2 separate regions of the Homo sapiens genome follow, and region 1 is linked to region 2. Evidence: fine-mapped expression QTL. Tissue or cell type: monocytes. Region 2 holds a variant in brackets; the other region holds the start of a gene. All regions are shown on one strand. Distances are between the middles of the regions.

Region 1 (8,106 bases), 77 kb after region 2:
ATGTGGCCACTGGTGCTTTAGCTTCCTCTAGCCAAACGGAAAAGCCCCTTTCACATCTGAGCACCAAGATCTTTGGAATCTTGGCCATGTCTGCAAGCAAGATCTAGTCTAAAGCCTAATTACACAGTCTAGGACACATTCCAAATGAGGTATTACTGCTCTCCCATTCTGAGCTGCTATGGCCATCCCATTAAAAAAAGAGCCAAGGAAGGTCTTTTCAAAAGCAGCTGAAAAAGCTATAAACACTGGTTAACTCATTAATGCCTGATTTTTTTTTTAATTCCCATTTTTTGTACACCCAGATGTCAACCTTGGTTAACAGATCAAACCATTCACAAATGTCAAATCCCAAAGAAACGCAATCAGAATCTTCCAGAACAGGACTCTGAAGTCTGTATTTTTTAAAACTCCCCAGGTAATTCTAATGGATCCAATCATTGGATCAGAGTCAGGGAAACTACTGTAGATTATACTACTTTATCCTCACTAACTTCATCTGTAAAACAGGAGCAAGAAATATCTATTTCATAGAATTGTTAAGAGTGATACCTAATATGTATCACATCTTGACTGTATGCCAGGCACTGTGTTAAGGGCTTTCCATCTATCATCACATTGAACTCTTATAACAGCCCTATGAAGTAGACACTAGATTATCCCCCTTTTACAGATGAGGAAACTGAGGTACAAAGAGGTTAAGCAATTTGATAAAAGTCATCCAGCTAGCAAGTGTGGAGGGCAAGCATATCAACTGCTAGGGTTAACGTGAGGATTATATTAAATAATGTATTTAAAGCATCTGGTACACAGTAGGTGCAAATAAATGCTCTCTCTTATCTTCCTTTTATCCACATGATTCTACTCATGCCCAGTAAAATTTACATTGAGGACAATATTTTGACCTTAGCAGTGCCCTATGAATTGAAAGTTCAGTATCCTGGAAAGTAGAAAAGAAAAGGGAAGTTAGGTAGTAGTGGAAGGAGGTGTTTGGGATCTCCAACAGAGAGAACCACAAAGAAAGGTGTAATTACACAGGGAAAAACAGGTGCACATGAGGGAAGACAGTTGCTTGGCCACTGAGGGTAGGATAAGGCAGGGTGATAACCTTTAAAAGAGGAAAGCCAGGGTACAAGATGAGAATCTCAGAGGAAGGGAGTCCACAAAGACACCTATTTCAGCCCGCCTCCCACTGCATGGTAATCCAATTCTCACTTGGACATTTTTTGTGACAAGAAACTCAATTAATCAAGGCAGAGGATGCTCTAGCTGTTAGAAAATTGTTCATATTGATTCATTCTAGAGTTTCTACCCACAGGTTCTCCTTCAACCCCTTAAGGCCCTTAAGTATAAGTTTAATTTCTCTTCTATTTGACAGTTCTTCACATATATCAAGACAGTTACCTTGTACCCCTGGGGCAAAACCTTCTGCTTCCTTTAATATTTCCTCATATGACATAGTTTCTAGCCTCTTTACATCCTGGTCCCTCTACTTGTGCATGTAGATAATTTCTTTCTGCCAAGTCTTAATTGCAGACAATACTTCATGTGGGTACTGACCAACACTGGGCAGCACAATAACACCTATCTTGCTTTACATGTCAGACTTCCACTGATGCAGCCTAAGAGCGTTTATTTATTTTGGCAGCCACAATTCACTGTGGACTCAGATTATTTGTCACCTAAGACCCTTTATCTTGCTCCTGTAAGCATCTAAGACACCTCTGCCTCCGGCTGGCTTCACACAGGGTGGGACTCCACATTTACCCCTGTTAGAGTCAGCCCACTGCTCCAATATTGTATGTGGTTTGTGTAACAGCGTCTCTTCCCCTCCTGGCTTTGTGTCATCTGGACATGTGATGCGAATCTTCTGGATTTTCCTTCAGAACACTGATAAAAGTTCTGATGTCTGGACCTGGGAGAGAGGCTTCTGTCATTCTGAGGGTAACTGGTGTGGTATAGAGGCTTTGAAATAAAAAGAAAAAGTCTAGTTTGAATCACGGCTCTGCCACCTACTGTGTGACCTTTGGCCAGCTAGCTAAATTCTGAGTTTCAGTTTCCCCATCTGTAAAATGGGGCAATAAAAGCTTCCTCACAGTGTGGTTATAAAGATTAAGGGAGAACATGAGGGGAAAGTACTTAGCACAGTGTCTGGTACGTAGTAGGTGCTGCTGGAATGCTGACTCCCTGCAATCTTCTTTTCGGTCAACGTCGACTCATCAATCAGCATCTTTAGGTTATGGTTACTTAACCAGTTATTAGTCCAATTAATGATACTAGCATCCAGCCCATATTTCTTCATCTTGTCTATGATATCTTGTCAAGTGCTTCGCTTAAGTCCCACTTACCTAGAGTGATCTCCTCATGAAATGGGGGCAGAGACAAAGGAGCAATAAGATTCCACCTGCGTGTAAACTTCGGAAAAATAGCAAGCTACCGACGGAATTGCTTGACCTCGAAAACAGTCAGCATTCAGACCACAAGCACATATTGGGCACTCCGTGCCTGTCAATGAGCTGGGGATGGGCAATGGTGTTACAGAGATTAAAAAACGCAGTGTCTGTGTTCAAGGAACTTACCAGGCTAGAAGTCTAGAGTCACGGGGGCCAGTCTGGGTAACAGAATTAGGCCAATTTATTTAATTCCATTTGTTCATGTATCCAGCCAACAGATATTTATGGTGCACTTGTTGGGTGCCAGCCCCGCCCCCACCACTCCACCCTACCCCAGCAGGCGCTAAAGGAGAGCTGACATGATGGATAACGAAAAAGAAGACGCTGTCCTTCTATTCAGGGAGTTTAACATCTGGAAGAGCCGGGAGTTCTTTGTGCTAAAGGCCCTCTACAAAGTGCCTGAGATGCAAAAATAAGTCACTTTCTCTGTCCTCTCAGCAACCGAGTCGCATGTCGTTATCAAATTTTTATTTTCTGTAACTGTTTCCTTCCGTCTTGCTCCGTAGACAGCTTTTTGCAGCAGAGAGCGCTGCCGCGGGGCTGGTGTCTACTCTTCAGTAAGTGGTCAAAACCTGGCTACTGGAAGGAAATGCAATGGAATCGCTCCGCGCTCGAGTATTCTCTTTGGAACTACGGGAATGACAGCTCCAGTGGGACACTTGGAGGTCATGATGAACGCAAAGAACGTGAGAACACTTGCAGTCCTCGGGGTGGAAATGCCTTCTAGAAATACTAAGTATCCGTTCTCTCGTTGAGACTTTGGCAAACCAGGGATTTTAGGAAGGGTCTGGCACTCAACGTTCCTAAAATTGGTTTCCTAGATGGAGCCGGAGGGAGAGAGGGAGTCAGGAACTGCTGCTTTTCGTCGGAATGCCCGGAGGGGAGAAGAAGAAGGAGGAGGGGTGAGGGCGGGCGGCCAAACGCCAGCCGGCAGGGGACCCAGAGAAGAGGGACATCCCGGGCGACCCCGAGGAGCGCGGCTTGGGCACCGCAGTGGCCGCGGCTAGTGGGAGACCTGAGGGGAAAGGGAGAGGGCAGGGGCGAGGAACCCAGGGAGCGCGCGCGGATTGGTCCTCTCCTCGGGGCGTGCGCTCCTGTGCGCCAAATGATTGGTGGCAGGAAAGTAGCAGGTAAACCGGCTCCCGCCGCCTCGCCATTGGTCAGCGGCCTCTCTAGCCGCCACACAACTGGCCAGCGGGCTGCCGAGCCGCGCGCGGATTGGCTGGGGGCGGCCGCCGGGACCGGCTCCCTTCGGGCGTTCGGATTGGCTGGCGGGAAGAGGCAGGTATCCGGGCGCTGCGGCTCCTCCATTGGTGGGCGGGGAAGGGGGGTTGGGCACAGCGATTGGTGGGCGGGGGGCCGGGCCTGGGCCGGCGGGGAGCGGATTGGTCGGAAAGTAGGTTAGTGGTGCGACATTTAGGGAAGGCAGAAAGTAGGTCAGGGACGGAGGTGCCTGTTTACCCGCGCCGGACTCACCGCCGCCGCCGCCGCGGGATCCGAGTGCGGGCGCGGGCGCGGGCGCTCCCGGCGAGCCACGGTGAGTGTCAGGCCGGCGGCGGCCAGCGACGCGATCCCGCGCACCCCGTCGGGGGCCGTTAGCACCCTCGCGGGCGCTGCGCCCCTGCCGCCGCCCCGGGGGCAACCCGGCCGCCGAAGAACCCTGCCCGACGTGCCCGCTGCCGGCCTTAAAGGGCCCGTGACCGCTCCCTGCCCCCACCCGGGCCGTGGGGAGGCTGCGCCCCTTAAAGGCGCCGCGCCCGTCCGCCCCCATCCTCCTCGCGGGGGCTGCCGCTGCGGGCTAGGGCAGGCAGAGGTGCTGCAGGAGCCCTTAAAGGGGCCGGGAAAGTGTTCGCTGGAGTACCCACCGCCCTTCCGCGGGCATCGCTACCTGGCGGGGGGAGGGGGCAGCTAGCTGCCTCTTAAAGGGATAGCTCTGCCCTTGGGGGCAGTGACTCGGCCGAAGAGGACTCCTAGATGTGTCCCCGGGAGCTTCGGGGATCCCCGAGGGGACCATGCCTGGTGGCTGCCCCTCAAGGGCGTTGGGCGAACGGTGCCGCGTCTGCCCTTCCTCCCCGCTTCACTTCCCTTTCGGGAGCCCGCGAGGCTGGGTGGGGGCGGGGAGGGCGTCTCCGTCGGGCTTGGGGAGTCCAAGTCCGCCCGCCCCTTCGGCCCTGTAGCCAGGGCTGGCGCTGCACCCGGGAATCCCCGGCCGGCACGGGGCCGACCCCAGCCTGCGAACTTTCGTGGGGCCTGTGCCGTCCAGGTCCTGGGCGGCCCTCAAGGATGCCCCGTGGGTCTGCGGGCAGGTGCGCGTCGGCCTGGGGATGTCGCCCGGAGCCCGGGTGCGGGCCGGCCTTGGAGTCCCAGAGCTCCGCGGAGGGCGCAGCGAGCCTGGCTCCAGCTCCGGGTTTGACAGATGTCAGGGAAGAAAAGGTTCCCGCTCGGCTATTGCCGGGCGTTGACATCCCAGAGAGCTTCCCGTTTGCTTGGAAGAAGACGAGGAAGGTAGAGGTGAACGTCGACCTTGTGGGGCGCATGTTAGCCTCCCCGAGGGGTCGCGAGAGCCGGCAGCGGGGTGAGCTCAGGTGCCCGCCGGCAGGAGCTGGGGAGGGAAGGGGAGTGCTGGACACCGGCGCCTGCTGTCAAGTTCTCGCCGGCCGGTGAGAGACCCGCTGCCGCCGCGCACCCCGCACCTCCTGACCCCTCTCCCCTCTCCGCCTCGGCCCCTTCCCGGTCACCTAGCGTTGTTTTGGCGCTTTGGCGCTTGCGGTCTCTTCCTTCTTCCACCGCTACTCCTCAGCGAGGAATTATTAGCCAAGTTTTCTCACCCAGCTTCCAAAAATCAGATTCCGTATTTGTGAACAAGCTTTTCTTGACACTACCCGTATACCCGTATTTCCAGCATCGTCGTTTTATTAAACATCCATAAAAGCTGCCCCTTAGATGCATTCATTTCCCACGACACCTGCTTGCTTGTCATTTGTCCTTCTGACATCTGCTGTTGTTCACCCCTTTAATCTATTATTAAATGACAACTATTATTTTAATTCTTCTGGTCTCATTGATATCCGGATCTGTGAATTTGGGTTGGTGGAGTTTTTAATTAATGTACCCGTTGAATCATGAGCTTAAAATAATCATTGCTGCTCCTGAGCAGTTTTGAATAATATCATGCTCTCTCTGCTTGCAAGACTTAAAAAAATTCGCTGGTGTTATATTTGATTTCCATATCAATGGAATTCCCAAATATTTTTGAAAATACAAAATTCAGTCTTTCAGTCCATGTTTTGTTACTCAGATCATTTTACTGATAAGTCTTTAACGCAGCTTATAGAACATATTTAGAAGGTTTGGAAATTTCCTGGACAGGATTTGAAATTGCCTGTATCATCTGAAGCTGGTTCTGTAGAAGCATTTTGGTTTTGATTGTAGATGCAGCCAGTGAATGATAACAATAAGTTAAAACTGTAGTTAAATTTGTTCTTTATTCAACCCTCTGAAGAACGAACAGATCTGGTAGAAAAGCACTAACCTGGGAGTTAGGAGCTGGACATCCTGGTTCTAGTTTAGGCTTGGGCTCTCATGGCCGTTCCAGTCGGGGCAAGTTATTAAAGATTTCTAGGTTGTGTTTGCCTCTGATGGAAAGTAAGACGGTTGAACTAGGTGATCTCAAAGGTTCCTCTCTTTTGAAGTTCTGTAAGTCTCTAAATATTTAATACATTTGAATTCAGGTTGGTATTTACCTCCTGGCACCTCCAGAATATCTGAGCTGAAGCCCTATTTTCATAAGAAAGTTAAGCAGATCAACAGATGGTGTTTTGAAGAATCCATTTCAAATGATTTATAAAATGATGACTACTTACGAGTTTGTCTGCTATTTGCAGAAGAGGTTTGCATGCCACAGGGCAGGAAAAGGAAGTGGCCATGTTTTCAGATTTATCCCTTCACACCAACAATCTCTGTGGAATTTATATGCTAAAAGATGGAGAAGCACCATAGAAAGATTTGGCTGTATTAACAAAACTGCATATGAAAAGGTAAAAACTAGATAGTTAATATCTCTCTTTGGTGTAAGGGTTATAATGTATCTGAGCTTTCTTTGTGATTTCATCATCAACTCTCACTGTGGTAGGAAAATCAATATTAAATAAACAGTTTCAGCCCCGTGATTACATGCAGTGATTTTAGGAAGCATCATGATAACTAAAGTAGGTACTTGCAGGGAAGTAAAATATCCTTTCTAGACCTTGAGGTTTCGTTGGGAGCTAGGGACACAGGCATGTTATCCTTCTCCACAGTCTTTTTTCATTGTCACCTTATCACAAGACTCAGATTTATCCCAAATACCCACCTTGTCTTTTCTTCTCCCTCTCATGAAATAAGACCTGCTCTGACTCAACCCCCTCAGCATCTCTTACTTCCCACCCAAAATGTCCTGTCTCTATCCCCATCGTCCCCTCATCTCCTCCCAATTCAGAGAAAGCAAGTGGACCTCTCCTCTGTTCCTTTTCTTGGCCTCTCACCATGGGCAAGTGCCTGGGCTCTGGTGGCAGAAGAATCCATGGCTCAGGTTTGGGCTTTGTGGTCTTGGATGTGTGCTTGACTCCTCTGACCTCAGGTTTCTCCTCTTGGTGTAATGGCAGTGCCTGCCTCGTGGAGTCTGTGTGAGGATTAAGGGAGATGGTGCATGTAAAAGGCCTGGCACACAGGAAGCCTTTCCTTTGTGCCAGCTGCCATTCCTTCTCACCTCTACCCGGGTCCTATCACTAGAATATTATTTGTGCTGTTTGTCCTTAGTCTCCCCTGCCCCACCCTGAAAACCTTAGGCTTGACTTAGGAGAGGAAGGATGGAAGAGGCAGAGTCAGACTTGTGGTGAGCCTGCTGTGTACCAGGCAATTTACATGTGTCTTTACTTGGTACCCTGGGTTCGTAAGCCTCTCTTTCCTCCCTCCTGCCAGCCTCCCCCACTCTCCCATCTCCTGCTCCATTCTTAGTACCTGCCCTCTGGCTTCTCTCGCTACCACCTTTCTTTATATTTCTTCTCAAAGTTTTCTCCAAAACTTTGTCGTGAGTTCCTGGGGCCCATCTGCCCATCCTTATTCCTGAGTGGTTGTTCTTGGCCCCTTTGCAGTATTTCTTTTATTTTTTTAAACATGGTCTCAGTCTTGCCTGGTTGGAGTGCAGTGGTGCAATCGTGGCTCACTGCAGCCTCCCAAGTCTCAGGTAATCCTCCTGCCTCAGCCTCCAGAGTAGCTGAGCCTACAGACACGTGCCATCACACCTGGCTCATTTTTGTATTTTTATTAGAGATGGAGTTTTGCCATGTTGCCCAGGCTGGTCTCAAACTCCTGGGCTCAAGTGACCCACCTGCACTGGCCTCCCAAAGTGCTGGGATTACAGGCGTGAGTCACTGTGCTCAGCCCCTTTGAAGCTTTTACCTCACTTGTTTTTTGTCCTTTGAAATCCTTTCCTCTCTCAGCCTTTGGGTCATGCTGGTTTCTTGATTCTCTTCCTGCACCCCTGTAAAGATAAATGTCTGTCCTAGCTTCTGCTATTCACACTGTCCGTGGCCTGGGGTCCCCTCTCTAGCCCTGACCTGTCTCTCCTGTGTTCTGCTAGCAGGTCCGTTGTGGACATGAATGGCAGCCTGTAATC
Region 2 (8,106 bases):
AGCTCTCCAGCAAGAGTTCCTAACCAAAAGGGAAACTAAGAAATGACAAAGAATTCAAAACATGGATTGCAAGGAAGCTTAATGAGTTCCAAGACAAGGTTGAAAATCAGCAAAAAGAAACTTCTAAATCAATCCATGAAATGAAAGCGGAGATAGAAGTCTTAAAAAGAAATCAATCAGAGCTACTGGAATTGAAAAACTCACTTAAGGAATTTCAAAATACAATTGAAAGCTTTATCAATAGACTGGACCAAGCAGAAGAAAGAATTTCAGAGCTTGAAATTCTTCTAATTCTAATCCCATATTTCTTGAAGACTTTTGCTCATTTTCTAAATTCTTTTTTCTTTATTTTTGTTTAACTGGGATAGTTTTCAGCATTCTTAAAGAAAAGAAATTTCAACCAAGAATTTTATATCCTGCCAAACTAAGCTTCATAAGCAAAGGAAAAATAAAATATTTTCCAGACAAGCATGCACTAAGGAAATTTGTTACCACTAGACCAACCTTACAAAAAGTCCTTAAGGGAGTTCTAATCATGGAAGTGAAAGAAGGATACCTGCTATCAAAAAAACACAGTTAAGTACATAGCCCACAGACCCTATAAAGTAACCACATAATATAAACTACAAAGTAACCACTTAACAACTTGATGATAGGATCAAAACCTTGCATATCAATATTAATCTTGAATGTAGATGCTCTGAACACCCCCACTTAAAAGGCACAGAGTGGCAAGTTGAATTTAGAAAAGAAGATCCATCTGTCTGCTGTACTGAGGAGACTCATTTCACATGTAAAGACACACATAGGCTCAAAGTAAAGGGTAGGAGAAAGATTTGTCACACAAATGAAAAACCAAAAAGATCAGGGGTTTCTGTTCTTATATCAGATAAAACAGACTTTAAACTAACAACAGTAAGAAAGGACTAAGAAGGGCATTACATCATGATAAAGGGTTTAATTCGACAAGACTTTACTAAATATATATGCACCCAACATTGGAGCACCCAGATTCATAAAACAAGTACTTGTGGGCCTATGAAAAGACTTAGTTGCATAATAATAGTGGTAGACATCAACACCCCACTGACAGTGTTAGATCATCGAGGCAGAAAACTAACAAATAAAATCTGGACTTAAATTCGACACTCAACCAATCGGACCTGATAGACATCTATAGCATATTCCACCCACCAACCACAGAATATACATTTTTTGCATCTGCACATGGAACATACTCCAAGATTGACCACACACTTGGCCATAAAGCAAATCTCAATAAATTAAAACAAATCAAAATTATACCAATCATACTCTCAGACCACAATGGAATAAAAATAGAAGTCAACAGCAAGAAGATCTCTTCAAGACCACAAAATTACCTGGAAATTAAACAACTTGTTGCTGAATGTCTTTTGGGTAAACAATAAAATTAAGGCAGAAATGAAAACATTCTTTGAAATAAATGAAAACAAAGACACAACATACCAAAATCTCTGGTATGTGGCAAAAGCAGTGTTAAGTGGAAAGTTTATAGTGCTAAACACCTACCTTAAAAGAGAAAGGTCTCAAATTAACAATCTAACATCACATTTAGAAGTATTAGAAAAAACAAGAACAAACTAACCCCAAAGCTATCAGAGAAAAAGAAATATCTAAAATCAGAGCAGGACTGAATGAAATTGAGACCTCCAGGACCACACAAAGAATCAACAAAACCAAAAGTTGATTCTTTGAAAGGATAAACAGCATTAATAGATTGTTAGCTAGAATAATAAAAAACAAAAGAGAAGATCCAAATAAGCACAATCAGAAATGATAAAGGTGACACTACAACCAATCTCACAGAAATGCAAAAGATCCTCAGAGACTATTATGAACACCTCTAAGCATACTAAAATATCTAGAGGAAATGGATACATTCCTGGCAAAACACAATCTCCCAAGACTGAATCAGCTATAAATCGAAACCCTGAACAGACCAATATCGAGTTCTGAAATTGAATCTGTAATTAAAAAAAAAAAATCTACCAAGTAGAAACAGCCCCAGGCTAGATGGATGTACAGCTGAATTCTACCAGACACACAAAGAAGAGCTGGTACCAATGCTAAAACTATTCCAAAAAATCCAGGATGAGGGACTCTTTTCTAACTGATTCTATGAAGCCAGCATCACCCTGATACCAAAAACTGGCCAAAAAAAAAATACAGTGAAAAAAAGGAAAAACTATAGGTCAATATCTCCAATGAATATGGATGCAAAAATCTTCAGGAAAATCCTCAACCAAACTCAGCAGCACATCAAAAAGTTAATTCACCCTGCTTAAGTAGGCTTTATTCCTGGGATGCAAGGTTGGTTCAACATATGCAAATCAATAAATGCGATTCACCACATAAACAGAATTAAAAACATAAAACATATGATCATCTTAATAGATGTGGGAAAAGCTTTTGATATAATCCAACATCCCTTCACAATAAAAACACTCAACAAACTAGGCATCAAAGGAACATACCTCAAAATAATAAGAGCCATTTATGATAAACCCACAGCCAGAATCATACTGATGGGCAAATGAAAGCATATTTGGAAACTGGAAAAAGACAGGAAGCCCATTCTCACCACTCCTATTCAACATAGTACTGAAGGTCCTAGCCAGAGCAATTAGGCAGATGCATTAGTCCATTCTGACATTGCTATAAAGAAATACCTGAGACTAGGTAATAAATAAAGAACAGAGGTTTAATTGGCTCATGGTTCCACAGGCTATATAGGAAGCATGGTATCATTTGCTTCCGGGGAGGCCTCAGAGAGCTTCTACTCAAAGTAGAAGGCAAAATGGGAGTAAGTATCTTACATGGCAGGAGCAGGAGACCTCCAGACCCACACAAAGAATCAACAAAACCAAAAGTTGATTCGTTGAAAGGATAAACAACATTAATAGATTGTTAGCTAGAATAATAATCCTCAATGTTGGAGGTGGGCTTGGTGGGAGGGGATTGGATCATGGGGGTGGATCCTTCATGAATGGTTTAGCACTATCCCTTTGGTGCTGTTCTTGTGATAGAGTTCTCACAAGATCTGGTTGTTTAAAAGTGTCTCCCCTCCCACCAAGCCCACCTCCAACACTGAGGATTACAATTGCACATGAGATTTGGTGGGGACACAGATCCAAACCAAATCAGCAGGAGAAAGATATAGGCGGGGCATGGTGGCTCACACCTATAATCCCAGCATTTTGGGAGGCCAAGGTGGGTGGATCACCTGAGGTCAGGAGTTCGAGACCAGCCTGGCCAACATGGTGAAACCCCACTCTACTAAAAATTAGCCAGGCATGGTGGCATGTGCCTGTAGTTCCAGCTACTTGGGAGGCTGAGGCAGGAGAATCGCTTGAACCCCAGAGGCAAAGGTTGCAATGAGCTGAGATTGCGCCTGCACTCCAGCCTGGGCAACAGAGCAATACTCTGTCTC[AAAAT/A]AAATAAATAAATAAATAAATAAATAAATAAATAAATAAATAAATGGTATACAAATAGGAAAAGAAGAAGTCAAACTATCTCTCTTCACTGACGATATGATTCCATACCTAGAAAGCCCTAAATCTCCACCAAAAGCCTCCTGGAATGGATAAATGACTTCAGTAAAGTTCCAGGATACAAAATTAATGTACAAAAATAGGTAACATTTCTATACACCAATAATGCTCATGCTGAGAGCCAAATAAATGATAAAATTCCACTTACAGTGGCCACAAAAAAGCAATAAAATACTTAAGATTACATCTAACAAGGGAGGTGAATGATCTCTACAAGGAGAACTACAAAACACTACGGAAATAAATCATAAATGACACAAACAGAAAAACATTCTATGCTCATGGATTAGAAGACTCAGTATGATTAAAATGACCATACTGCCCAAAGCAATCTACAGATTCAGTGCTATTCTTGTAAACTACTAACATCATTTTTCACAAGACTATAATAGAAAAAACTATTCTAAAATTCATATGGAACCAAAAAAGGGCCCAAATAACAAAAGCACCTAAGCAAAAAGAACAAAGCCAAAGGCATGACATTACCTGACTATACTATAAGGCTATAGTATACTATAGCCTTCAAACTATACTATAAGGCTACAGTAAACAAAACAGCATGGTACTGGTACAAAAACAGATGCGTAGGCCAATGGAACAGAATAGAGAAGCAGAAATAAAGCTGCACACCTACAGCCATCTGACATTTGACGAAGTCAACAAAAATAAGCTATAGGGAAAGGATTCCCTATTCAACAAAAGGTGCTGGGATAACCTGCTAGCCATATGCAGAAGAATGAAACTGGATTCTTACCTTTCACCATATAAAAAATTAACTCAGGATGAATTAGATTTAAATGTAAGACCTCAAAATACAGGAATTCTAGAAGAAAACCCAGGAAACACCTTTCTGGACATTGGCCTTGAAAAAGAATTTATGACTAAGCCCTCAATAGCAATTGTAACAAAAACAAAAATTGACAAGTGAGACCTAATTAAACTAAAGAGCTTTTGCACAGCAAAAGAACTATCAATAGAATAAAGAGACAACATACAGAAGAAAATATTCACATAATGTGCATCTGACGAAGGTCTAATACCCAGAATCTATAAGCAACTTAACCGAAAAAGCAAACATTTTTAAAATGGGCAAAAGATATAAACAGACACTTTTCAAAAGAAGATATGCAAATGGCCAACAAACACATGGAAAAATGTTTAACATTACTAATCATCAAAAAAATGCAAATCAAAACTACAATGAGAAACTATCTCAAACCCGTCAGAATGACTATTATTAAAAAGTCAAAAACAACAGATGATGGCAAGGCTACAGAGAAAAGAGAACACTTATACACTGTTGGCGGGAATGTAAATTAGTTCAGCCACTGTGGAAAGAAGTCTGGAGATTTCTCAAAGAACTTCAAATAGAACTAACATTTCACCCAGCAATCCCACTACTGGGTATATACCCAAAGGAAAATAAATCGTTCTACCAAAAAGACACCTGCACTTGTATGTTCATCATAGCACTATTAACAATAGCAAAGACATGGAATCAACCTACATTCCCATCAATGGTGGACTGGATAAAAAAAATGTGGTACATATATACCATGGAATACTATGCAGCCATTAAAAAATAATAAAATCATATCTTTTGCAGCAATATGGATGCAGCTGGAGGTCATTATTCTAAGCAAATTAATGCAGAAACAGAAAACCAAATACTGCATGTTCTCATTGATAAGTGGGAACTAAATATTGGATACTCATGCCCTTAAAGATGGCAACAATAGACACTGGGGATGACTGGGGGAGGCGGGAGGGAAGGGGCAAAGGTTGAAAAACTATTGAGTACTATGCTCAGTACCTGGGTGATGGATCAATTGTACCCCCAAACCTCAGCATTATACAATATACCCAGGTATCAAACCTGCACATGTGCCCCCAAATCTAAAATAAAAGTTGAAATTATTTTTAAAACGATTAGAAGAAAAATTATGTAAAATTTATAAGTAAATAAATAAATTGGTGCTTCAAATGATAATATCAAGAAAATGAAATTATAACTCACAAAATGGGAGAAAATATTTGCAAATCATATATCTGATAAGTGATTAATATCTAAAATAAGTTTTAAAAAACCACATCACTCAATTTTAAAAATGGGCAAAGGATTTTAACAGACATTTCTCCAAAGAAGATATGCAAATGACCAATAAGCACATGAAAACATGCTCAACATCATTAACCATCAAAGAAATGCAAATAAAAACCAGTATGAGACATTACTTTACACCTATGATGATGGCTAAAAGCAATCCATACAATTATTATTCGTCAATTAAATTTTTTTTAAAAAAAGACCACAATAATGAGTGTTAACAAGGGTGTGAAGGAATTGGAACCTTCATACGCCACTGATGATATCATAAAATGATGAAGCCACTTTGGAAAACAGTCTGGCAATTACTGAAAATGTTGAATACAGAGTTACCGTATGACCCAGCAATTTTACTGCTAGGGGTATATCTCCAAGAAAAATGAAAACAGGCCAAGTGTAGTGGCTCATGCTTGTGCTCCCAGCACTTTGTGAGTGCAAGGCAGGAGGATCACTTGAGGCCAGGAGTTTGAGACCAGCCTAGGCAACATAGTGAGACCCTGTCTCTACAAAAAAAAAAAAAAAAAAAAAAAAAAAATTAGCCAAGTGTGGTGGTGTACATCTGCAGTCCCAGCTGCTTAGGAGGCTGAGGCAAGAGGATTGCTTGAGCCCAGGTATTAGAGCCTTCAGTGAGCTGTGATCACACCACTCTACTCCAGCCTGGGCAATAGAGTGAGACCCTGTGTCTAACAAAAAACAAGAGTGAGAAATGAAAACATATTCACAGAAACATTTGCACATAAATCTTTATAGCAGCATTATTCATAACAGCCAAAGCTTGGAAACTACTCAGATGTCCATCAAATGATGAATGGATAAATAAAATGTAGTATATCTGGCCGTATAATGGACTACATTTCAGTGATAAAAAGGATTGAAGTACTTACTGACACATGCTACAACATGAATGAACCTTGAAAATGTTATGCTAAGTGAAAGAAGCCAGTCAGAAAAGACCTAATAATGGATAATTCTATTTACATGGAATGTCCAGAATAGGCAAATTTATAAAAACAGAAAGTAGTTTAGTAGTTGCCTAGGGCTGGGAGGGCCTGGTGGGTGGAAATGAAGAGTGACTGCTAATGAATACAGGGTATCTATACTATTTGGGGTGATTAAAAAAAGTTCCAAAATTGATTGTGGTGATGGTTGCACAACTCTGTGAATATTCTAAAAGTCATTGAATTTTAGACTTTAAACAAATGAATTATGTAATGGTGAATTAAATCTCAATGAAGTTGTTACAAAAAAAAGAATGTCTGGAAGTAGATAGTAGATAGTGAGTGTAACTAATGGCATTGGATTATATCCTCAAAATGATTAAAATAGAAAATGTTATGTTATATATATTTTATCACAGTAAAATTAATTTTAAAGAACGTTTATAACAGCAGTGTGAAAAATAGCCAAACACTGGAAACAACACAAACGTCCATCAACGATGGACAAATAAACTGAGGAATACCCATACTACACATTCTTGCTGTGTTCATGCTATACAGCAATGAAAGTGACCAAATTCCTGCTACCTGTATCAACATGGTTGAATCTCACAACAATAACGTGAAAAAAGAGAAATCCAACAAAAAGAACAATACATTACATGTGATTCGAAAACAGGCAGAACTATCAATGGTGTTAGAAATCAGAGTCATGGTTGCCTTGAAGGAGTAGGGCAGCACCTGGGAGGGGACACCTGGGTACTAGTGATATTTACCTTCTTACCCAAAGGATGATTACACAGGCACGCTTAGTGAGTGAAAATCCATCAGACTATGCATGTACGATTTGTACAATTTCCAGATTTGTTTTCAAAATTTATTTTTTTTAAGTCTCAAAAATCAAAGTCCCCCCAGTAACTTTAATGCATAGCCAGGTTCAAAACATTACCTTCTTTACTGTGTCACCAGTACCTTCTCAAGGACCCAGTAGAAGACAACTCCAATTCCAAAATTATTATTTTCTTTTCACTCTCTCATACACAGCAATTCATTGTCTCCCTCTCTGCTCAGGAAAACCTTCACTTTTTATAGGCAAACAAATCCATTAAGGTGTGTCTTCAACAAAAGGACTTTTTTTGGGGTGGGGGGGACAGAGTCTGGCTCTGTCACCCAGGCTGGAGTGTCAGGGCATAATCTCGGCTCACTGAAATCTCCTCCTCCCGGGCTCAAGTGATCCTCCCACCTCAGCCTCCTGAGTATCTGGCACTACAAGTGCACGCCACCACGCCCAGCTAATTTTTGTATTTTTTGTAGAGACAAGGTTTCACCATTTTGCCCAGGCTGGTCTTGAACTCCTGAGCTCAAGCAGTCGGCTCACTTCAGCCTCCCAAAGTGCTGGGATTACAGGCATGAGACACCGCACCTAGCCAATTTTTCCCCCTTAGTGAATTTCTGTCACCATACTAGG

The links. PIP is the estimated chance that this variant, and not a neighbour inherited with it, causes the effect.
Region 1: BMAL1 starts here. The variant in region 2 is fine-mapped to the expression of BMAL1 in monocytes (Fairfax 2014, PIP 0.94).

What each region holds. Positions count from the first base shown.
Region 1 is chr11:13,273,937-13,282,042 of GRCh38, forward strand. It overlaps BMAL1 (basic helix-loop-helix ARNT like 1), which reads left to right and starts at 3,854. Exons shown (of 20, transcript NM_001297719.2): 1 at 3,854-3,987. RefSeq lists silencers at 3,455-4,104, 4,175-4,244, 4,525-4,864.
Region 2 is chr11:13,197,240-13,205,345 of GRCh38, forward strand. No RefSeq gene overlaps it. Among named protein-coding and RNA genes, the nearest start is that of BMAL1, 76 kb to the right of the region's middle. The variant AAAAT/A (reference allele first, on the strand shown) is at 3,473.